7 linked regions of the Homo sapiens genome follow. The protein of the gene in region 7 purifies or fractionates together with the protein of the main gene of each other region. This does not show direct contact. Each region holds a gene or a part of one and is shown on either strand. Other genes may lie near its edges.

Region 1 (3,500 bases), on a different chromosome or scaffold from region 7:
CAGCAGACGCCAAGTGGGTGCTAGTGCCAAGCCTGTACAGCCTTCAGAACCATGAGCCAACTATCTCTTTTCTTTATAAACTACTCAGTCTCAGGTGTTCCTTTACAGCAATGCAAAACAGACTAATACACTCACCATGCCACTAGAACTGGGAGGAGTTTTGCCCCCTGTATACACACATACGCAGATATTACACAATAGATTATAAGTGGTGTCAGTGGGATAAAGGCTTTTGGTCGGGGCGTTTCTGTTTTATGGAACAGGGTATGAAACAGTACATACACACACACTTCTGTGTTTAACTGAACTGTAGGATTCTCTCATGAGGCTTAGAATTCTGCCTAACTTTGGCTTTAACCTGATGATTCAGTTATAACTGACACCAAGTCAAACTCAGAAACACAGCGTTTGCCAAGATCACACGGCGGCTCAAGTTGGCAGGCACAACATCAGAAACAGGCCTGGAAAGGCACTTGTGAGAGTCTAGAGAAATACCTGTGCAAACATGTCAAGGTCAACACAATACGAGCTTTCAAATGACTTTCTCCCACAAAGTCCTACAAACCCTCAGGGCCTTAGGGGTTCTCTCTGAAGTCATCATTCTGCAGAATCACAAACATTTGAAACTAAAATTTGTGATGGGCAGAATCACAACAGAGGCCAGAAGAAATTCCAGTAATCATCCAGCGCAACTCCTTATTTCACAAATGAAGAGATCGAGGTCTAGATTAATGGGGCCATAGTCTATCAAAAGTAACCAGTGACGTATTAGAAAAAGTACAGTTCATTTGGCTTAAAAAACAAGGAGTGGAGAGGCACAGATATGCCTTTAATTTCACTTTATAAGGAAAGCAAACAAGCAATGCTTTTATCCCTCTAATCTCAGTAGTCAAACCGGTTTAAAGCCACAGGTTGCTCAAAGGAAGAAGCCCTCAGTCTGAGACTCACTCACCCAGGATCCCCCCAGCGTGGAGAGGAGGAGGAGAGAAGCGGGAGAAGGCCCTCTCTTCCAGAGGCTCCTTTTCAGCACTGCCCTCCACCCGCAGTCTGTCTTCCCCAGGATCACATGGAATTGTTCTATAAATGTGCATTGGCTTAAGGTTGGGAACGCCGGCCTGGGAGGCAGTGGCGTGTAAGCAATCTGACCCAGGCCAGGCAGCGGCTTTCCAGAAGGCTCTGCAGCCCAGAGGGAGAGGGTAATAAGGAGCAGGGAGCCTGCAGGTGCCGCCAGCCTCCAGCTCTCTGTGCTTCTCACTACACATTTATTTGGGATCCGAAGCCAGTGTCAACTACCTTGGGCTGCAATTTGATTTACTTGACTTATATTTTGGCTGGGACAAGCCACTTTTCAAAACAAAGCAACCATAAAAGAAGAAAAAAACAAGGCATAAAATTAGCAGTGCTTCTAGTAAATAGGGACAGGTCATCACCAGCCTCAGCTGACAGTATCAAGCAGTCCTTTTCAAACATGTCAATATGCCTCCTTTAGAAAGGGAGAATGAGCAGTTAGTTAGGCGAGTTCTAAACAGCATGTCACCTACAGTTTCATCAGTAGCCAGGGAATTAAAGATGCAATCATACAATGGGAAACGAAGCGGCTGGAGAAAGGGTGAGGAGCTCTTTATATACCGTCACTGAAAACTCTCCAAGATACATCAAGTGAAAAATATTAAGATACAGAACAGTGTGTATGATATACTATTGTTTATGTAAAGAAAAAAGAAAGGGGCTGGGTGTGGTGGCTTACGTCTATATAATCTCAGCACTTGGGGAGGCCAAAGAGGGCAAATCACTTGAGCTCAGGAGTTTGAGAACAGCCTGGGCAACACAGAGGGACCTTGTAGAGTCTACTAAAAGTACAACAAAAAAATTAGGCAGGCATGGTGGCGCACGCCTGTAGTCCCACATACTTGGGATACTGAGGTGGGAGTATCGCTTGAGCCAGGGCGGTTGAGGTTGCGGTGAGCTGTGATGGTGCCACTGCACTGTAGCCTGGGTGACAAATTGAGAACCTGTCTCCAAAACAAACAAACAAAAAACAAAAAACAAACAAACAAAAGCCCCGAAAGGAGGATATACATTTATGTGTAAATACTACATTATAAAGGCAATGATCTAAACCTAACCATACAATGTGCTACATTATAATATATAAATAATTCTTTCTGGAAACTCACATAAGAAACTAGTGACAGTGGGTGGACTCGGGAGCAGGGAAAGAGGAAGACTTCCCTCTCATATTTCTTTTCTAGTCTAGGGATTTTATCTCATGTGAATGTATAATTTTTCAGAGAAAATTTAAAAGGTAATCTAATTTTCATCGGAAATATTTAATTTTCAAAATTATTCTAGTATTCAGAGTGCAAATTCAAGTGACTACAACTCCTTTTTTTCACACATTTAAAAGTTAGTTGAGTTGTCTTCCTTAAGAAGACTGAGTTTTATAATAACTAAAATGCTGTAATACCAAAGGACCTCCCAGAGAGTTTTGTTTTGTTTGTTTGTTGTTGAGGCAGGGGTCTTGCAACATTGCCCAGTCTGTTCTTGAACTCTTGGCTCAAGGGATCCTTCCGCCTTGGCCTCCCAAAGTGCTGGGATTACAGGTGTGAGCTACCATGCCTAGCTTCCCAGAGAGTTTTGAATGAGGGTTCTGAAGGCTGGATGCTAAGTCTCGATTCAGCTATTTTTTCTTTCTTTTTTTTTTTTTTTAGAGACAGTCTCACTCTGTTGCCCAGGCTGGAGTGCAGTGGCACGATCTTGGCTCACTGCAACCTCTGCCTCCCAGGTTCTAGCAATTCTCCTGCCTCAGCCTCTGGAGTAGCTGGGACTACAGGTGCCCACTGCCACGCCTGGCTAATTTTTTGTATTTTAGTAGAGACGGGGTTTCGCCGTGTTGCCCAGGCTGGTCTCAAACTCCTGAGCTCAGGCAATCCACCCTCCTTGGCCTCCTAAAATGCTAGGATTACAGGCGTAAGCCACCATGCCCAACCAATTCACCTATTTTCTAGCAGTGACTTGGATCAATTGCCCAAGCACTAAGCACTTCCATTTCATCAGGCAGAAAAAGAGAATGATCCCACACTCCACCTTCTTCATAGGCCCAGCATGACTTAATCATGATGATGTACATAAAAGCCCTCCAAAAATGGAAAATCCCTATTCTAGAACTGAGTTGTTCTGTGCAATTACATTTTATAACTTTTCTTGAAGTTCTTGTGTAATTCTGCACTCAAATAACTTAAGTCAAATTTTCCTGTTGGAAAAAGCATTAAAGTAAAGGGGCCCCTACATAAAACCATGTGGCGTGTTTTCACATTAGCACTTTTTCGGCTCTTAAAACCTTCAGGTTTTTCACTTTCTCAGCATCACCTCTCTTGTGTACAAACTGCTTTCTTCCAAAAGAACAGCCTGGCATATCAGGGTGGGCTGTTCTGGGCCTTCTTCACAGCTTTCTACCACTTCTCACTTTTGTTCCCAGTTTATTGATCTGGGAACAGTTT
Region 2 (3,500 bases), on a different chromosome or scaffold from region 7:
GTTTTCAACCTACTGCCAGCGGGCATGAAGACAGGGACTAGAGTTCACCCGAAGCTTTAAAACAGTCTTCTTGGCTGGGTGCGGTGGCTCACGCCTGTAATCTCAGCACCTGGGGAGGCCAAGGCGGGTAGAGCACAAGGTCAGGAGTTCAAGACCAGCCTGGCCAGCATGGTGAAATCCCATCTCTACTAAAACTACAAAAAATTAGCCAGGCATGGTGGTGTGCACCTGTAGTCTCAGCTGCTCAGGAGGCTGAGACAGAAGAATCACCTGAACCCAGGAAGCAGAGGTTGCAGTGAGCCAAGATCGCACCACTGCACTCCAGCCTGGGCAACAGAGCAAGACTCTGTCTCAAAACAAAACAAAACAAAACAAAAAAAAAACAGTCTTCTCCAGGCACATGAAATGCCTGTCTCCTCTTTTAAGGGAGATTTTATGAAGTTTCAGAATGAAAAAAGTGATTTAACTTAAATTTAGTCCTGTATCATTACAATATATTATTTTTATAAATAAACAGGCATCATTGGCAATGATGATTGGCAATCTAGTCATCACTGGTCTATGTTGAAAACACTACTAAAACATTTGTGATCTCAAAGCTCAGTTAAGAAAATACTTTGGACATTAAATACATATTGGAGCTTTTCACTCTCCACGACAAATAATACATCATAAACAAGGACAGAAACTACAGAAGCACAGGCCTATCGGGCCTGCCACAGCAAATCGTGCTTGCTACTGGGAGTTTAGGCTGACTGCCCTGCACGCATGCCTCTGTTATTTATTCACAGCTTTCCTCCTAGTGCCCTTGCCACTCAGGGGTCTTGCTGTCACATGGCTTCAGACCTTGGGACACATACTCTTTCCTACCCAACACTCATCTCTCCCTCCCTTCACCTAGCTAGCTCCTACTTTGTTTCCAAGTCTTAGCTTAGCCATCCCTTCCTCTGGGATGGGAGCACACACACCCTGGCCCTGACCACACATCTTCATCCTCACAGCACCCTGGACTTACCCCTCTAGCAGTACTTGGCAAATATATTTTAATGGCTGGTTCAGATATGCCTCCCCCACTGCCTGTGAGCTCCTGAGAGGGACTGTTTTGTTCACAACACCACCAGCAGGGTCTAGTACTGCACCTGGGTTCAGATCAAGCTCTTAATAAATGCTTGCTGACAGATGAATGAATCGTTAGATTTTCTCATATATGTGCCACTGAGCAATCACATGTTGATATACACACACACAAAAATGAGTGAGGTTGTAAAATCACCGTGTTTTTTATCTTCGGAAGAACTCTTTTGCCAGTTTCGGAGCCAGCGTAGGAGTTTGTTGGCACAGCTCTGGTCACCTTGCTGTCCAATTATGGTCTTGAGCGAGGTTGGCTTATATTTATCCACCCAGAGCAAATTTTCCACTTTGTTTTCACTGCTGTCATCAGCCAAATTCCTAGCCTTGCTGTCACCACTTGTCTCCTCAGCCACCTGCTCCTTGAAATCCAGGCTTTTCCAAAACACATCTGTTTCCTTTTTTATTGTCTTTGCCAAACTGTCCCTTTTGGAAGTCGGCCTGCTCTTTTTAGATTCTGATTCCTTTTTAGATGGACTAATTTTTCTTTTTCCTTGGACATTTTTTTGGGGTGTTCTCTCCAGTTTGGACTCTTTCTTCATCTTAAGAAGTGGAAAAATGAGGAAAAAAGAAACCTGATGAAACATACAGAATTTCTATCCTGCTAAACGTACTACAGAGAGCAATCAGAGATATCCAAGTGGGCTACTCAACCTGGGCTGGTCTTTTCACAACAGACTTTCCTGTTTGTGGAAATCACCACCTTCTAAACTATAAAAATTAACAAACACACCAGAAACCACCAAATGCAATTTCTAAAAGTGACAACACGTTGATTTTTAAAAGTAATAAGTACTCCAATTTTAGTTTGAAAAAAACAAGGTACAGTGTTGAGATTTTTGTTTCAAAGTTTCCTAATTAAAAGTTAATGCCTCGACAAAAACTTGTACACAAATGTTCATAACCACATTATAGCTAAAAGATGGAAACAATCCAAATGTCCATCAACTGAAAAAGAAACAAAATAGGATGTGTCCACACAATGAAATATTATTTACCCCTAACAAGGACTGAAGCACTGATACATGCTACAACCCAGGTCAACCTTGAAACCACTATGCTAAGTGGAAGAAGCCAGACACAAAAGGCCATATATTCTAATGTCTCCATACACACGTGAAACGTCCAGCATAGGAAAATCCATAGAGACAGAGCAGAGCAGTGAGTGCCACGGGGTGGATAGAATGAGTGGCTGCTGATAGGTACAGGGTTTCTTTTCAGGGTGAGGAAAATGTTCTGGAATTACACAGTGCTAATGGTTGTATACTCTTGTTAATATACTAAAAACCACTGATTTGTATACTTTATAAGGGTGGATTTTATAGTATGTAATATCTCAGTTTTTAAAAAAATTAGTGCCTCTTTAGCAGTGGATGCTAAAATTAGTGGATGAATGTTTAAGGACAAACAGGATATAAGCATAAGTACCTCCTTCTCCTGCCAAGACAGTTATCGATTACAAAGGAAAAAATAGTCACTTTACTAGTGAAGGAACCCAGCACTAGTTTCAGTGGGATGCTGAATCATCTTAACCAAATAATCAAGATTATCCTCACTAATAATAAGACGTTATTGACATCCTGTATCTATGATAGGATGCACTGAGGACACAAGATCACATCCATGGTGTTCTTAGAAAAAAGGCATAACCTCAACCTAATCATGAGAAAACATCACAGATCCAAACTGAGAGACATTCCACAAAACTGACCAGTACTCATTAAAAGTGTCAAGGTTGTAAGAAGACAAGGAAAGACTGAAGAAATGTCATCGACGGGAGAAGACTAAGAAGACACAACTAAATGCAGTGTGGGACCCTGGAACAGAAGAACTACAGGGAAAAATGTAAGGTTCGAAAAATATGTACAGGTTAGTTAACAATACGGCATCAATGTTAATTTCCTGGTTTTTATAACTATGCTATGGTTATGTAATCGAAATCATTCCCTAGATTTCTCTAACCGGAATAACCTGGATGGACCATCTTGCCATTTGGGTGACAGAGCTGGGGACATTAAAATCTTGGAATGCTGGCAATCCTGTGTCCTGTGTGTAAAAAAAGATGGTCTACAGTGGGAATGAATGAGGCTAACTAGTAGAAACAGAGAGACAGAAACTGAAGGGGTCCTCACAGCTTTGTAGTCTGTGGATCCAATAGTTCCTAGACCAGACCCTCCCTGCCCATAGTTTAGTTATGTGAGCCAACATTTTTCCTTTTGCAAAAGCTAATACAGGCTAGGTGTCTGCACAATTTAAAAAGTCCTAATACAGTTCTAATTGAAAACAAATTTATCATGCTAATACCTATTAAAATATCCTTTAAGGAACTCTTAAACAATAACCTTTGCATAAAGTCAACGTGAGAATATGGC
Region 3 (2,206 bases), on a different chromosome or scaffold from region 7:
CACTTCTTTGCTAGCCAGGTACTGTGCTGTGAGGGCCCTGTCTCTCCTGCAAGTCTCTTTTCAATTCTCTGCTAAGCTGCTGGTGGCCTGTCAGGTGGCCACAGGCCCTGAGCATCAATCCACGCCAAGATGGAACCTCTCCCTGGTTCTTCCTGGCTCTTTAGGGATGGCCCCCGGGGCAGGGGACATTGTTTCACACTTCTCTCCACTGTCATCCCCGAGGTATGTATGCTAGGAGCTTGGGGAAGAGTGAAGAGTTAAGCGCTTAAGCAAAGCCATGTGGTTCCAAGCCCCCTGCAGTGTTTAAGGGCATGGCCTCAGCTTCCCTCACCCTCTCTCCTCAGGCCTCAGTCCCAGCCTCCCCACTGGGAGCCAGGCAAGCCCACCCTCTGGATTCCTCCCTGAAAGCCTGAGCACTCCCTGTGAAAGACTACATGCTCACGGCATTTCTCTCTCCTCCTCCTCTTCGGTCTCACCACAACCCACCCTATCAAAATACTGCACCTCCACACAGCCGCTTCTCTTTCATTGGGAAAGGCCAGCACCTGGCCTCTTTCTCTTTGATGCTTTTGTAAATTGAGTTTTGGGGAGAGCGTTCCTGGTCTTTGTCCTAAACCAGTGAAGACAAACAGTGTACTTGGTGTAAGCAGACACTGAAGGTTTGTCTAAGCTGTCAGCCTGCTCTCCCAACACCTGTGCCTGTGCTGAGACCTGATGGTCCAGGAAAGGGCAGCTGCCACACTGTGGATCCCCCGCCACCCACACACGCACCCCCCGCCCAGTGCCCTTTGAAATTCTCACTTGAGTCTTCTGCAGTCAGAGTCCCTGGCCACGCCCCTGTCTGCTGTCTCCCAGCTCAGCTCCTCAGGGCCCTGGGAATGTGTCTGAACAGCCTGTTCCTACAGGAGTTCAGTCTGCAGGGAGCTGCCTGCAGGGACAGTGCTAGGCTGGGTGAGGGGACAGGTGGGGGTTCATGTGTGTGCTCCAGCTGTTCAGGGTAGAGCATCTGGGCTCAGTTCCTCCCTCCCTCCCCTGTCCCTCACACTCATGCCCTCCTAGCCGCTGTAGAACGGGGGCGGGAGCAGCACGGGAGCCCAAGTGTAGCATCTGACTCTGCACGGCCCCCAGTTGCTGGCGCCCTGCTTCTGCTTCCTGGCCTGTCCGTCCAGCAGTGAACTGGAAGCTGCCGGAGTCCCATCCCCTTACCCTGGACCTTGGGGTGGGAGTGGAGGGGGGACCTCTGCCACTTACTTCCAGGCAGAAAAGGGCCTGGAGTAACGTGCGGGGGTGGGTAGATGATGCTTGTCTGAGCATTCCACCCTTCATCCCCAAGCCCCAGAGCCTCCCCTGCCGTTTGTCCTCAGAACTGGGTTCCTTTTTTCCCCTGTCCCTTCCTCTCCCTTCTCTCCCTTGCTGCAGACTGCACAGCGCAAGATCAGGGAAATTGTACAACAGGTGAAGCAGCAGGAGCAGAAATACCCTCAGGGAGTCGCCTCACAGCGCAGCAAGTGAGGCTCCCACAGGCACCAGCAAAACAACGGATGAATGTAGCCCTTCCAACACCTGACAGAATGAGACCAAACGCAGCCAGCCAGATCGGGAGCAAACCAAAGACCATCTGAGGAATGAGAAGTCTGCGGAGGCGGCCAGGGACTCTGCCGAGGCCCTGAGAACCCCAGGGGCCGAGGAGGGGCGGGGAAGGTCAGCCAGGTTTGCCAGAACCACCGAGCCCCGCCTCCCGCCCCCCAGGGCTTCTGCAGGCTTCAGCCATCCACTTCACCATCCACTCGGATCTCTCCTGAACTCCCACGACGCTATCCCTTTTAGTTGAACTAACATAGGTGAACGTGTTCAAAGCCAAGCAAAATGCACACCCTTTTTCTGTGGCAAATCGTCTCTGTACATGTGTGTACATATTAGAAAGGGAAGATGTTAAGATATGTGGCCTGTGGGTTACACAGGGTGCCTGCAGCGGTAATATATTTTAGAAATAATATATCAAATAACTCAACTAACTCCAATTTTTAATCAATTATTAATTTTTTTTTCTTTTTAAAGAGAAAGCAGGCTTTTCTAGACTTTAAAGAATAAAGTCTTTGGGAGGTCTCACGGTGTAGAGAGGAGCTTTGAGGCCACCCGCACAAAATTCACCCAGAGGGAAATCTCGTCGGAAGGACACTCACGGCAGTTCTGGATCACCTGTGTA
Region 4 (3,500 bases), on a different chromosome or scaffold from region 7:
CTCTTCATGGAAAGTTCTATGTAAAGCTCCAGCTCCAAACACAAAATAAGACAAAGGTCTAGACCTTGACTCAGGTTTTATGGGAAAATAATTGAAAACCAGCTAAAAGTTCTTGTTCTAAAAGGCTATATGACTTCTCTTCCTGGTAAGAAATTATTGGAAGTCCAGATTCATATATGGGATTGCCTCTACATTTATTATTTTGCACTTAAAAGCATCCTACAAATACAATCAGTAATTAATCAGCCGACATAGTCCATTTGAGAAGGGAGAAGATTGTTCTAAGAGAAGCTCATTATGAAAAACTAGGAAAAATGAAGACTCTTTTCGAGCCCTCTGCCTCCTGCTTTACCAAACACAGGTTCTAGATTGCCAGTTCCACACTCGGATGGTCTGATCATCGGAGGCACTCAGAATCCAGGGATATTCCTGAAAGATATTCCAGACAAAGGCTTTAAACATTAAACAAATCTGTTCTATCAGGTTCTTGTAATCATTTTTCTCTAAAGAACTGCATTGCTTAACGGCTCAGCTACATTAGCAAAGGGGCTGCTGCTTTTGCTATCAGGTTAGCTGTCTCCTTTTCTCTACCACTCTAACAGCTTTTCTCAACTTCGGCACTTTCACCTATAAGACTTAAGAATGGAAGCCAGTTAGAGGCACAATACATTCTCAGAGGCAGATAGTGAAACATACATTTACATTTACTTCTATATGTGTGTGTGTGTGTGTGTGTATTTATATACAGTTAATCATGTAAATTAAGATCCTGTGAAAGACTCTTCTACCTTTAACTCTAGGATGGGAATATTATTTTATTGTCTGACTTCTTTCTGTCCAGTTTCAAAAAATTCCCAGGTCTCAGCAAGCAAAGCAGAAAGTAACATGTAAAGACAATTTAGCCTTTTTGGAGTCTATAAGATTGTTGAGAAAAGGAAGTATTTCTTATTTACACTTCCTTCTTACTACACTTGCTAAGCTTTGTGTTAAACACTGAAAATAGATGGTATTTCTATTTTCAATAGAGATAGTATCTCTACCTTCAGTATTTAGCACAAAGCTTAGCAAGTATAAGGCACACACATATTTAGTGAGCTGGTAAAATGAAAGAAAATAAGGTCTTTCGTAACTTTCCAGGTAGATGGCAACTTGTTCTAGGCAAGGGTCTTCAGGAAGTCCTTTATGGCAATGACAAATAATTCCTACTTAATAAGTTATCTTATTGAGTGGTTATCATTCTCAAATGTTTAAGCTGTAATTTTCTCATTCTCTCCTATCCTAGAATTTTTTAATTAAAAAAAGAAATAATATATACTCAACCAGTAAATTGTTTATTTCATCATATTCTTTCTAACTTAATTAAAGAGACTTAATTTACTGGCAATCAAAGAATAGTGTAAGTTAATGCTAATACACAGAACTATAAGGAGATCCTGTCAGGGTGCAACTGGATTCAGAGGTTGGGAGTCTGTAATCTGCACCTCACTATCTAAATCTACTATGTTACCTGGCAGATCAAAGAAAGTAGTAAGCCTGGCTAAGGGAACAGCCTCCACCAGACCCAAAAATCCTAGGATAGAGGGGTATGATTGTTAATACTTCGAAACGTTTGTTAGCTGATCAAAATGGCATCTTAGTCTGACCTTCTTCCAGACACACCTACTACTTACTAATAATACCCTACATGGGATTAGCTGGCAAACTTTTGTTTTTTGGTTCAGCAAATCTGAAATCAAATCCCTACTTTTCCCTACAGAGAAACAATGACTTCCCATAGAATCCACTGAATCCAATAAAATTAAATTCAGTATAATCCCAAGTGCTTCCTTTTGCAGAAAGAAAAAAAGCAGAAAGGACAATACCACACAGATTGTAGAAGAGCCACTCCAAAAACAACTCTATTATTAAAACATGGGTTCTCAAGGATCAAATAAAGATTACTATGGGGAAACTAAGAATGCTCCAAAACTAGCGCCACCATGACTACTTACATGATGAAAAAACGTGGTGCGAATATAATCTAAGTGCCCAAGCAATGTGAAAAGACAGCGCCGAAGCTTGTAATTCCAAACCTGCAAAGACAAATCAAACTAAGAAACAGAAATAGTTATTGAGCCTCTAAAAGGCTCAGAGAAATTGATATCTTTACAGAGATAGAAATATGTATATAAATATAGATTTATATACATTATTTGTATTTTGGCATTTCTAAATAGGTAGGAACCTTGGTAGAAAGCCTTGTTTAAGATTTGAGGGGAAAAGAACAAGAATGAAAATATAGGTCAGATAAACAACATGGGGTTGGGGTAGGATTAGGGAAAAGCTAAAGATAAAATTATTGAAGTTTTTCAGGCTGGGCGTGGTCACTCATGCCTGTAATCCCAGCACTTTGGGAGGTCGAGGCGGGTGGATCACAAGGTCAGGAGATCGAGACCATCCTGGCTAACATAGTGAAACCCTGTCTCTACTAAAAATACAAAAAATTAGCCAGGCGTGGTGGCATGTGCCTGTAGTCCCAGCTACTCGGGAGGCTGAGGCAGGAGAATCGCTTGAACTCAGGATACAAGAGGTTGCAGTGAGCCGAAATCATGCCATTGTACTCCAGCCTGGGTAACAGAGCGAGACTCAGTCTCAAAAAAAAAAAAAAAAAAAAAAAGTTTTTCTTTCTTTGGGAAGAAGCCATCTGCATTTAATAGCAGGAGATATTTATCCAGGGCTTGATTTGCAACTCTTTTTTCTACTGCAAAATTGTGCTCTTGGCTTGAATATAGACCCCTTAAGTGCTTTACCCATCACTTTTAAAAAGTATGACAGGCTGGGCACGATGGCTCATACCTGTAATCCCAGCACTTTGGGAGGTCAAGGCAGGGGGATCACCTGAGGTCAGGAGTTTGGGACCGGCCTGGCCAACATGGGGAAACCCTGTCTCTACAAAAATACAAAAAAAAATTAGCCGGATGTGATCCCAGCTACTTGGGAGGCTGCGGCAGCAGGATCACTTGAACCTGGGAGGCGGCGTTTGCAGTGAGTTGAGATCGCTCCACTGCACTCCAGCCTGGGCGACAGAGAGAGGCTCGGTCTCAAAAAAAAAAAAAAAAGTAGGACAGATAGATACCATGACTCCAAGGGAAACAATAATATAGGGCATCAGCTTCTTAGGCTCCTAACTTGATGGCAAACAACGCCCATACATGTGTGGTCTGTACTCACCTGTCAAGCAAACAGACCTTAACTTATTACATGGAAAATACTACATTGCTCAGTAAGCCTGAGCTAAGCAGAGAAACAATATCATATTCAGATGTGAAGTTGAGTCAACTACCAAAGTACTAGGCATCAATGAACACAACTGAAGACATGAAAACCAGGATCATAAATATAAAATAGCTTATCTTCCTCATTCAGAAAATCCCCTAAAATGTACAAAAATAAGAGACCAGATGCATTTTTCTTCTTATTTAATTTTTTTAAATTTCTTTTTAATATTTGTTTATAATCAA
Region 5 (3,500 bases), on a different chromosome or scaffold from region 7:
TAAAAATCCAGAGCAGTGCTGTCCAGTAAAACTTCTATAATAAAGGAAATATTTGTGTCTGTACTTCCAATTCCAATACACTATCCAGTAGCAACAGGTGCCTAACTGAGCACTTGAAATGTGGCTGTGATTGAGAAACTGACTTTTTATTTTAATTTTAACTGATTTAAATTGCCACATGTGGCTATTTACTGTATTAAACAGAGAATTAAACATGGAAAGGAAGGGAAGAATAAAATTTTACATTTGTATCATGCCTGACAGCTTCCAAAGTACTCATTTAAACATTTATCTTAATTTTCCTAACAACCTTGTAAGTTATGAATATGTACTATTATCCCTATTTTATTGCTAGAAAATTGAACCTGAGGGAGGTCAAAATGAAAGGTCCTTTGGCTACTAAGGAACAGTTTATTCTTAAACTCAGGACATTTAAAAGAACATTAAAACAAAATAAAGAAAGAGATTTCTTATTAAATTTGTGCAAGTTCTAGTTTTATACTCACCTGCCTCATTTTAGCATGAATATAGAAGCAAGAATAACCCAGTTGAGAAATCTTCTTGGCTAGCAATTCAACTCGCTGAGAGGAGTTACAGAAAATGATCGACTGGTTTATCTGAAGCTGAGCACAGAAAAAAATAAGTATGAGAAAAATAAAAAAAACCTTCATTTGGTTTGCCAAATCTTGAAAACACGAACCAGCAAAAAAGAAACATTAACATGGTCTAAAACTTAGAATCTCATGATATGAGAGAGATGGTAAATTGTAAAAATTGTAAATAATAGATGGAAGATAATAATATCTAAGATTTACCGTATTAGAGTATATTTCTTAAGGGCCACATAACTGTCAACAAGAGTAATACAATTGATTATCTGATTCAAAGTAGTTATGTTTTATGTGTTTCCATTTAAAAATATTTTATTTTATTTTTTTTTTGTGAAATGGAGTTTCACTCTTGTTGTCCAGGCTGGAGTGCAATGGTGCAATCTCAGCTCACTGCAACAGCTGCCTCCTGGGTTCAAACAATTCTCCAGCCTCAGCCTCTTGAGTAGCTGGGATTACAGGCACCCACCACAATGCCTGGCTAACTTTTGTATTTTTAGTAGAGACAGGGTTTCAGCCTGTTGGTCAGGCTGGTCTTGAACTCTTGACCTCAGGTGATCTGCCCACTTCGGCTTCCCAAAGTGCTGGGATTACAGGTATGAGCTACTGTGCCCAGCCAAGAATACCTTCTTTAATATACTCACAACCAATGCCACCAGCATTGGGCAGCACTTCAGCACCATGTGTAGGGGCCAATTAAAACTGTGAAATCAGCAACAAAAACTTGAAAAACATGGCAGACTGTGAAAAGGACCCTTGTTCACAGTATGAGAGCTAAACAAGAGGACAGAGATTGCTTTCTTCGACCTCAGCTGGGAATGTGCATGTCAGGTGACTTAAACTCTTTGCCACACTGTACACGTCCACAAATGACTGCTGAACTACCTTGAGTATTAATTCCGGAGTTACAAATAAATTCTAGTGACTAAGCAAATTCACAAATACAGAATATGTGAATAATGAGGATTAACCCTAGTTAAGGTCAAAGTATTTCAGAAACTATTCAAAAGTGTATCTGTGACTTGGTTAATCATTTAGTATCAACTTTAGGTCAACAACTAAACCTGCCTTTTAGGAAACACTATGAATTATTTTTTAATCTTTTTTTTTTTCTTCCCAAGACGGAGTCTTGCTCTGTCGCCCAGAGCTGGAGTGCAATGGTGCAATCTCAGCTCACTGCAGCCTCCGCCTCCTGGGTTCAAGCAATTCTCCTGCCTCGGCCTCCCAAGTAGCTGGGATTATGGGCACACGCCACCATGCCCAATTTTTTTGTATTTTGTAGTAGAGATGGGGTTTCACCATGTTGGCCAGGCTGGTCTCAAACTCCTGACCTCGTGATCTGCCTGCCTCAGCCTCCAAAGTGCTGGGAGGCATGAGCCACCGTGCCAAGCCAGAAACACTACGAACTTTTATACAGTGAAGACGGTGGGAAAATTGATGAAATCATCTGTTTTACTGGGACTCGAGAGATAATATTCAACAGCAGAAGCCTACTTCTTACCCTGGAGAAAAGTGTGTTGAGGCAGTGTACTTTTTGGCGCTCAGTTACATATGCGTAGTACTGGGTTACTCCCTTCAGAGTTAGTTCCTCCATCAGGTTAATCTCATAGGGTTTCTGCAAATGGGAATTCTGGGGGGGGAGCGGGAAAAAGATGAGTCGTCGTCTTAAATGAAAGCAGAGTTCATCTCAAATTCAAAATATACCCTATACGTTTCTGTCCGATAAACTCTTGCTGTAAGGGACGCAACTCTCTTCAAAACAAAATATATGATCTGTCATTACAGAATTTCCCCCCTGCCACCCTGAGACAAAATCTTGCTCTGTCACCCAGGCTGGAGTGTAGTGGCACGATCTCTGCTCCCTGCAACCTCCACCTCCCGGGTTCAAGTGATTCTCCTGCCTCGGCCTCCCGAGTAGCTGGGAATGCAGGCATGCACTGCCATAACAGACTAATTTTTGTATTTTTAGTAGAGACGGGGTTTCACCATGTTGCCCAGGCTGGTCTCGAACTCCTGACCTTGTGATCTGCCCGCCTCGGCCCCCCAAAGTGCTGGGATTACAGGCATGAGCCACCATGCCCGACCCGATAGAAATAAATTAAGATATAAGATCTCAAAAATGCAGCTAAGTTACTACAGGTTGAGTATTCCTTACCCAAAATGCTTAGGAACAGAAGTGTTTCAGGTTTTAAATTTTTTCTAATTTTGGAATATGTGCATTACACTTAGTGACTGAGCATCCTTAATTTGAAAATTCAAAATCCAAAGAACATTTCCTTTTAGCATCATGTTCGTGGCTCAAAAGGTTTCAAATTCTGCAGTATTTTGGATTTCAGTTTAGGATACTCAAGCTCTGTTTTGTATATAGAATAATACCGGAATCAATTCAGCTAGCACCAATGGCTATGTCATCATGACACCAAAAACTAAGTGAAAGATGAGGAATTTAATTAAGTTACTATTACAACCTTCTTAAAAAGTCAGTTAATTTACGTAAAACAAATCTTTAATTGATCAACTGAAGAAAGAGCCAAAGGCTTGAAATAATTAGCATAAAGTATATTCACAGATATGAAGATGTAATTACAAATAAAAGCATACTCAAAGGTCACAGGATGGCACTGATTCCAAGTACAGATTTATACTCACCATGAACTTCTGTACACTAAGAGGGAAAGTAGCGGAATATAGTAAAATCTGCCTGTTTTTAGGTAGCGTGAGAATAATATCCTCCATTATCTGCACAAAATCCTGTGACAGCAACTTATCTGCCTGCAGTAGAAAGAAAAGACAATTTTAAAAACAATAAAATAATGTCTAAGGTCTTGGTTAATACATGGTCAAAGAATAAGGCATCATCCAACAAAAGCATCCATGAAATGTTCCTGGTGG
Region 6 (3,500 bases), on a different chromosome or scaffold from region 7:
TGCATGACTTTTTCAAAATCAGTCATTTTAAGTGAATACAGAAGGTATATAATACCTTTGGTTGCTGCTTTAATAAGTGGAATAAAAGAAACTCATAGGTTACGTTTGGTCTACACTCGCGTGAAGGACAAATACCTCCTGTGAATTCTAAGGTCTTTCACTAATTCCAACAAGGTTCCATCTTCCTGTTTCTCATCATAGTTTTTCCAATAGCCGTCGCTTTTGGCTCTGTCCTTCCCCTTATCCACCACTCACCCACCCACAGATACACTCATACCTTCCTTCTTTGGCCATCTCCAGAGCACTATCACTCCACCTATCACCACCTTGGAAAACTGTGTTTTGCTATGATCCCTACCTATCAGGCAAAGCTGATGTCTGTAGAGAAGAGAGGTTGAGGAGGTTCCTGAGAGGTTTCCAAAGGCAGCAAATTCAATGAATTTGAATGAATGCACAGGGGAATTAAAGTGTATTGGGTGAGGACTAGGGCTCTTACTGGAGTCAGTGTACTTAGTGGTTAACGGTTTTGCTGTGAATCAGACCTACGTTCAAAATCTTGGCTCTAATACTTAATAGCTGTGAGACTCTCACCAAGAAGTGATCTCTGGACCTCAGATTCCTCATCTGCAAATAAGGAACTCGACCAGCCTCCTAAGACTGCTGTGGGTAATGAAATTACACACATAGGTGGCACTAAATAAATGAGAGAAAAGTAGAGAGTGTCATATTTTATAAGAGACACAGAATCATAAATGTTTTTGCATTTGGAAAATGTACATCCCAACAAAAGCACTCTTTTTTTTAAAAAAGCTTTAAAAATTGGGATAGAAAAAGAAAACAATGTTTCCACAAAGATACTTAATATTAAAAGGTTATTTAGAGTTTGGGAAGAAAAAAAATGTGATGAGAATCTTGGAATTTGAGAAAGGCGATAAAGTACAGTTTAAAAGAGATACAAGTTCTTCATCAGGGTGAATAAACAGGAAATAAATCATTAAGGGGTCCCTAATTTACTAGCAACTGGGCCAAAGAGGTAATTACAATAATCATATTTATGAAAGTATGTAATGCCTAGAGCTATCTATTCAAACATTCTATTACCAGGACTGATGAAACAAAGACAGAAAGTCCATCCTTATTTGGGTAAACTCTCCCCAGCGACACCTCACATTCCTTCCCTTAGTAAAGTATCTTACCAACAGGAACCACTGCTCACAGGAGAGGCTATTATGTGTTAAAGTTTCAATGTACACCCGACCACCAATGAACATAACTACAACATCATCAGTAAGCTTGTATCACTTACTGAAGACAGAACATGTAGTGCTATGATAATTCTCGTTAGGAAAAACTTACAGCATTGTAAAATATCCCTCCTAAAGAAAACCTGCTGGAAGCTGGACCCGGTGTCTCATGCCTGTAATTCCAGCACTTTGGAGGGCTGAGGCAGGCAGATAACTTGAGATCAGCCTGGCCAACATGGCGAAACCTCATCTCTACTAAAAATGCAAAAAATAGCCAGGAATGGTGGCACATGCCTGTAATCTCAGCTACCCGGAAGGCTGAAGCATGAGACTGGCTTGAACCCGAGAGGTGGAGGTTGCAGTGAGCTGAGATCCCACCACTGCACTCCAACCTGGGCGACAGTGAGACCTGTTGAAAGAAACAAAGAAACAAAGAAACAAACTAAAGAAACAAAGAAACAAACCAAAGAAACAAAGAAACAAACCAAAGAAACAAAGAAACAAACTAAAGGAGCAAAGGAGAGAAATGAAGGAAAGAAAGGAAAAAAGAAAAGGAAAGAAAAAAGGAAGAAAGGAAAGAAAGGAAAAGAAAGGAAGAAAGGAAGAAAGAAAACCAAAAAAGAAAACCAAGAAAGAAAACCTGCAGGAGACAGGATAGGGACATAGGAAATGTGATAACAGTATGATTCAAACCCAAGGCTTCATATATAAAGCAAGTTATCATTTTGTCCCCACTCCCCCCGCCCCGTTGTATGGGGACACTAACAACATAAAAGAATAAAGAGAGACAATAAACCTCATCAACAGTCCTTCCAACCATACCACATGTCCAGGACTTCATATAGGCTACAAATTATGTGAAAAACACATTTAGCTTCACTCTGACCAAAAGACAACAGAGACATGTGCAAAGAAAACATTATTAAATTAGTTACTAATTTTTCTTGTGTGTATGTATTCTAACTTTTGAATACTTCAGTTTTATGAGCTCCCAATATAACAAAGACAAATTTCCTAGCAGGGTCAAAGATTTCTAACTTTATCTTTCCTTAACAGGCATCCACATGAAGAAGTACAGCGCCAAGGTTCAAGAATTAGTAACAAAAAAAGCTGGCACATAAACTGAATTATTTCATGATGGCTTTGTATTAACAATAAAAAATGGTAATATAACACTGTAACTATAGTTATAGGATGCTAAGGCAGTGTTATAGCACAAAATACAATCAAAGACCACCATGAAATTGAAAACTAAGCAGGAAATCAAACCAATTTCTTCAAGCTAAATTTCATCATTTCAGGAATTCAGAATCCTGACCCTTAATGGCCCTGACACTTGGTAGTAAGTCACTTACCTAACCTCTCTGTGCATCATTTAAAGAATGGGAATAACAACAATACATCAAATAAAGTATCAGAGAGAACAGTGCCTGGCACCTAGAAAGTACTCATCCCCTGTTAACTATTATTATAATCACGATCCCAATCTTCTCAGGAAGCACATTCCTATAGTGGGCAGAAATCAGAAACTCCAGTAATATACCACTGAATGTTGCATCTAATTAATAATTTGGAGGTTATGAGAATATTTAAGTATGGGGTTAGAAAATGCACAGTTCAAAAGGGGAAAAATGATGCAGCCACAAAGATCCTAAAAACTAAAAAGGGCAATCAGACTGTAGGAAGGAAAAAAAATGTGGTTGACCCCAATAATTCACTTCCTCGAAGTACAGAATAACACCTTTATGCAAAGTTAGCTCAGGAGACTTCAGAGAAACCACGAGTGCAAGTTTATTTACACTTTACCCAAGTTGATTTATAAACTTATAAATTTATAAACCTTATGCAAGTTTATTTGTAGTAAAACTGATTTTACTACATTTCAGCTATGTATCTGAAATGACATGTTAGACCACTAATATCTTCATTAAAAATATCCTTTTGATTGTACACTTTATCATATTTAGCTGCTAGCTGCCATAATACTACTAACCAAATGAAAGTCTGTCCTCAAACACTGAACTTAAAAAAGTATAATCTAACAACAAAATTACAATCTAGTATAATTACACCATATTACAACAAGGAATCAGAAATCAGAGGTTGTATTTTCAGAAAACAAAAAGGTTTGTATCTTATGTCTCCAACATGTGATTTTTCCATCTTTAGTAATTTTCATACTAGTACACAAAACCTACAAATCTTAGGATTCATTAGGGCATTCATATTGGAGTGATACGCATTCTACATTTAAAA
Region 7 (3,500 bases):
GCACTTTGGGAGGCCGAGGCAGGCAGATCATGAGGTCAGGAGATTGAGACCATCCTGGCTAACACAGTGAAACCCCGTCTCTACTAAATATACAAAAAATTAGCCGGGCGTGGTGGCGGCTGCCTGTAGTCCCAGCTACTCGGGAGGCTGAGGCAGGAGAATGGCGTGAATCCAGGAGGCGGAGCTTGCAGTGAGCCGAGATGGCACCACTGCACTCCAGCCTGGGACTCCAGCCTGAGACTCCGTCTCAAAAAAAAAAAAGAATGAAATCTTTTCATTTGTAGGAACATGGGTGGAACTGGAGGTCATTATATTAAGTGAAAAAAGCCAAGCACAGAAAGACAAGTATCACATGTTCCCACTCATATGTGGGAACTTAAAAAGTTGATCTTGGCCGGACAAGGTGGCTCACACCTGTAATCTCAGCACTTTGGGAGGCCGAGGTGGGCAGATCACCTGAGGGTGGGAGTTCGAGACCAGCCTGACCAACATGGGGAAACCCCATCTCCATTAAAAATACAAAATTAGCCGGGTGTGGTGGTGCATGCCTATAATCCCAGCTACTCGGGAGGCTGAAGCAGGAAAATCGCCTGAACCCAGGAGGTGGAGGTTGCAGTGAGCCGAGTTCGTGCCATCACACTCCAGCCTGGGAAACAAGAGCAAAAACTCCGTCTCAAAAAAACAAAAACAACAAAGTTGATCTCATAAAGGTAAAGAAAAGAATGGTATCAGAGGCTGGGAATGTTGCATGTGGGGGTGGATGAAGAGAGGTAGTTTAATGGGTACAAACTTACAATTAAATAAAAGGAGTAAGTTCTAATGTTTTCTAGCATAGTAGGGTGACTATAGTTAACAATAATATATATTTCAAAGAAGCTAGAAGAGAATAATTTGAATGTTCCCAACACATAGAAATGATAAATGTCCAAGATGATGGATGTCCTAAAGACTGATTTTATCATTACACATTCTGTGTATCAAAATGCCCCATAAACATGTACATATATTATGCAACAATAAAAAAATACCCATTACCGATGAAATGGACAGAAGATGAATATTCAACATTCATAAATGTTTGAATAAACAAGCATAAATTAAGACAGCTTGAAATTAAAACTGTATTTTAAATTAGAAATCCCTGCTTAACATCACAAACGTGAACAGAGAGAGAACATTCAGTTGCTATGGTCAGTATGCAAATTCTTATTACTACTCAGTCTGGAGTTCACCAGCTCTTTCTGTCATACAAGTCAGGCAAAACTGTGTTCTCATTTTCAAAAGTAATTTACCTTGTAATATACTTTGTTCCCATCATGATTCTTTCATGTTAATTCATCCTGATCAAGTAATCTAGAATGTATGCAACCTATGTCCACTTTCTTTCTTTCTTTGTTGAGGCAAGGTCTCCCTCTGTTGCCCAGGCTGGAGTGCAGTGGCACAAACATGGCTCACTGCAGCCTCAGCCTCCCAGGCTCAAACTATTCTCCCACTTCAGCCTTGCAGGTAGCTGGGACCACAGGCACGTGCCACCACATCTAGCTAATTTTTTAAAAAATGTTTTGTAGAGATGGGGTCTTGCCATGTTGCCCAGGCTGGTCTTGGAACTCCTGGGCTCAAGCGATCCTCCTGCTTCAGCCTCCCAAAGTGCTGAGATTACAAGTGTGAGCCACCACCACACCCGCACACCCGACCACCATCAATTCTTTTTTTTTTTTTTTTTTTTGTGCAGCGGAGTTTTGCTCATCGCCCAGGCTGGAGTGCAATGGTGTGATCTCGGCTCACCGCAACCTCACCTCCCGGGTTCAAGCAATTCCCCTGCCTCAGTCTCCCCAGTAGCTGGGATTACAGGTATGCGCCACCATGCCCAGCTAATTTTGCATTTTTAGTAGAGACAGGGTTTCTCTATGTTGGTCAGGCTGGTCTCGAACTCCCAACCTCAGGTGATCCTCCCGCCTCAGCCTCCCAAAGTGCTGGGATTACAGGTGTGAGCCACCGTGCCCAGCCGACCACCAGCAATTCTTGACCATAATTTCAACTGTCTCAAAGTGAAAGGAGAGCAATTATGCTAAAAATCCTTTAAAATTACCTCTAAAGGCTTCCATTTGTTTCTGAATACCCGTATGCATACAAAAGTCAAACATCAAATCCACATATTCTTCTGCATTATCCATTGTTATCATCTGCAAAAGAAAATTTGTCAGTATCTAGGAATATTTCAGGAGTGTCTAGTACAACTGGCCTTGCTAAGAGGATATGTCAGAACTTACAACTATATTAAAAGCAAACTTTTTACCTCATCTTCACCACTTGGCTTGAGATCCACAGCTGTAAAACCATATATTCTTGAGGAAGGGCAAAACTGGAAATTTAAACTGGGAGGACAAAAAAGATTAAATTAACTGACATGCAGCTACTACTAATGGTGTTTAATTTTTATAACATTACTATCATCTGCCATCAGTGGGTACAAGAGAAAAAATTAAATAAAATAACATGGCTATCAAAACCATAAATCCCACCCCTCTCCTCCTCCAACAAAATCAGTACACCAGCTTAGAAGTAAGTTGAGGACTTTTTAAATGCAATATTCTATGGACAAAATCTACTAGGCCAACTGTTATCAAATCTGTCTGGCTTTGCAAAGATTGCATGAAACCACCTTTCTATATTTTACTTCTAACTTATGGCACAAAATTAATGAACTAAAAATTTTGCAATGAATTATGACAGCAACATGTTTGTAAGACTTTTAGGAAGAAACTGTTGCTTTACTGAAGTCAATCACGCTGTGTACAAAAATATATATTAAAAAAAACCTTGAATATATAACCATTTATCAAACACAGTTTACCAACATTATCAGCAAACATTAAAAAAAAAAGGCCTTGCAGTTAACCTAAAATCACAGCTGAAGATATGATAATTACCTGTACATAAAGTAACAGAGTTTTATCAAAAGTTCTGCAGCATCTCAACTGCTACAGCCTTTGGTGATAAAGCTGACATACCAACCAATTTTTGAGCTTTGCAAAGTGAATCATATATTAGCAGATGAATTTGTCAAAATATTGTTGGCTCTGGACATTTTACACAGGCATATAAATTCACATTGGCTAAGTCAGGTAATCTTCTAAAGGTTTGATGATTAATAAACTAATATTCTAGTATTCTGAGTGTTGTCTTTATAATATTAAATCAAAGGTTCAAGTCGATCATCAATATTTCCTACAGCATATTACTGTTTTTGACAGACTATTTACTCATATATTGCAAATCAGTGACGACAAAGAAACAAAAGCTTTAAAACTTATTCATGCATTGGATTGAAGAATGTACATATAATGCTTACCCTAAATCCTCTATGCTAAGTGGAGGCCCAGAACCTGATGGATTCTTCAGCACTAGTTCCTGTAATTTTGTGTTCTTCTCATCTTCAGAAAGACCTTTGTTGCTTAAAATTTGGCGCCTCTTGATAGCAAGGTCTTTAATTTCTTTTA

The links.
Region 1: the proteins of HECTD1 (region 7) and TACC2 purify together in Homo sapiens (affinity purification with mass spectrometry, with the first as the bait; 2 studies listed by BioGRID). This does not show direct contact.
Region 2: the proteins of HECTD1 (region 7) and RFC1 purify together in Homo sapiens (affinity purification with mass spectrometry, with the first as the bait; 2 studies listed by BioGRID). This does not show direct contact.
Region 3: the proteins of HECTD1 (region 7) and IGF2BP2 purify together in Homo sapiens (affinity purification with mass spectrometry, with the first as the bait; 2 studies listed by BioGRID). This does not show direct contact.
Region 4: the proteins of HECTD1 (region 7) and COPA purify together in Homo sapiens (affinity purification with mass spectrometry, with the first as the bait; 3 studies listed by BioGRID). This does not show direct contact.
Region 5: the proteins of HECTD1 (region 7) and DDX6 purify together in Homo sapiens (affinity purification with mass spectrometry, with the first as the bait; 2 studies listed by BioGRID). This does not show direct contact.
Region 6: the proteins of HECTD1 (region 7) and FMR1 purify together in Homo sapiens (affinity purification with mass spectrometry, with the first as the bait; 2 studies listed by BioGRID). This does not show direct contact.

Annotation. Positions count from the first base shown.
Region 1 is NC_000010.11:121,992,163-121,995,662, reverse strand, and holds part of TACC2 (transforming acidic coiled-coil-containing protein 2), read right to left. Parts: intron 1,032-3,500; exon of another isoform or gene 953-1,031; intron 1-952. UniProt on the Homo sapiens protein: Plays a role in the microtubule-dependent coupling of the nucleus and the centrosome. Involved in the processes that regulate centrosome-mediated interkinetic nuclear migration (INM) of neural progenitors.
Region 2 is NC_000004.12:39,307,363-39,310,862, forward strand, and holds part of RFC1 (replication factor C subunit 1), read right to left. Parts: intron 1,671-3,500; coding exon 1,274-1,670; intron 1-1,273. UniProt on the Homo sapiens protein: Subunit of the replication factor C (RFC) complex which acts during elongation of primed DNA templates by DNA polymerases delta and epsilon, and is necessary for ATP-dependent loading of proliferating cell nuclear antigen (PCNA) onto primed DNA.
Region 3 is NC_000003.12:185,644,837-185,647,042, reverse strand, and holds part of IGF2BP2 (insulin-like growth factor 2 mRNA-binding protein 2), read left to right. Parts: coding exon 1-18; intron 19-1,419; coding exon 1,420-1,512; 3' UTR 1,513-2,206.
Region 4 is NC_000001.11:160,333,251-160,336,750, forward strand, and holds part of COPA (coatomer subunit alpha), read right to left. Parts: intron 2,073-3,500; coding exon 1,992-2,072; intron 430-1,991; coding exon 353-429; intron 1-352. UniProt on the Homo sapiens protein: The coatomer is a cytosolic protein complex that binds to dilysine motifs and reversibly associates with Golgi non-clathrin-coated vesicles, which further mediate biosynthetic protein transport from the ER, via the Golgi up to the trans Golgi network.
Region 5 is NC_000011.10:118,756,665-118,760,164, forward strand, and holds part of DDX6 (probable ATP-dependent RNA helicase DDX6), read right to left. Parts: intron 3,381-3,500; coding exon 3,258-3,380; intron 2,239-3,257; coding exon 2,110-2,238; intron 624-2,109; coding exon 507-623; intron 1-506.
Region 6 is NC_000023.11:147,914,919-147,918,418, reverse strand, and holds part of FMR1 (fragile X messenger ribonucleoprotein 1), read right to left. Parts: intron 1-3,500.
Region 7 is NC_000014.9:31,103,294-31,106,793, forward strand, and holds part of HECTD1 (E3 ubiquitin-protein ligase HECTD1), read right to left. Parts: coding exon 3,353-3,500; intron 2,376-3,352; coding exon 2,297-2,375; intron 2,184-2,296; coding exon 2,090-2,183; intron 1-2,089. UniProt on the Homo sapiens protein: E3 ubiquitin-protein ligase which accepts ubiquitin from an E2 ubiquitin-conjugating enzyme in the form of a thioester and then directly transfers the ubiquitin to targeted substrates.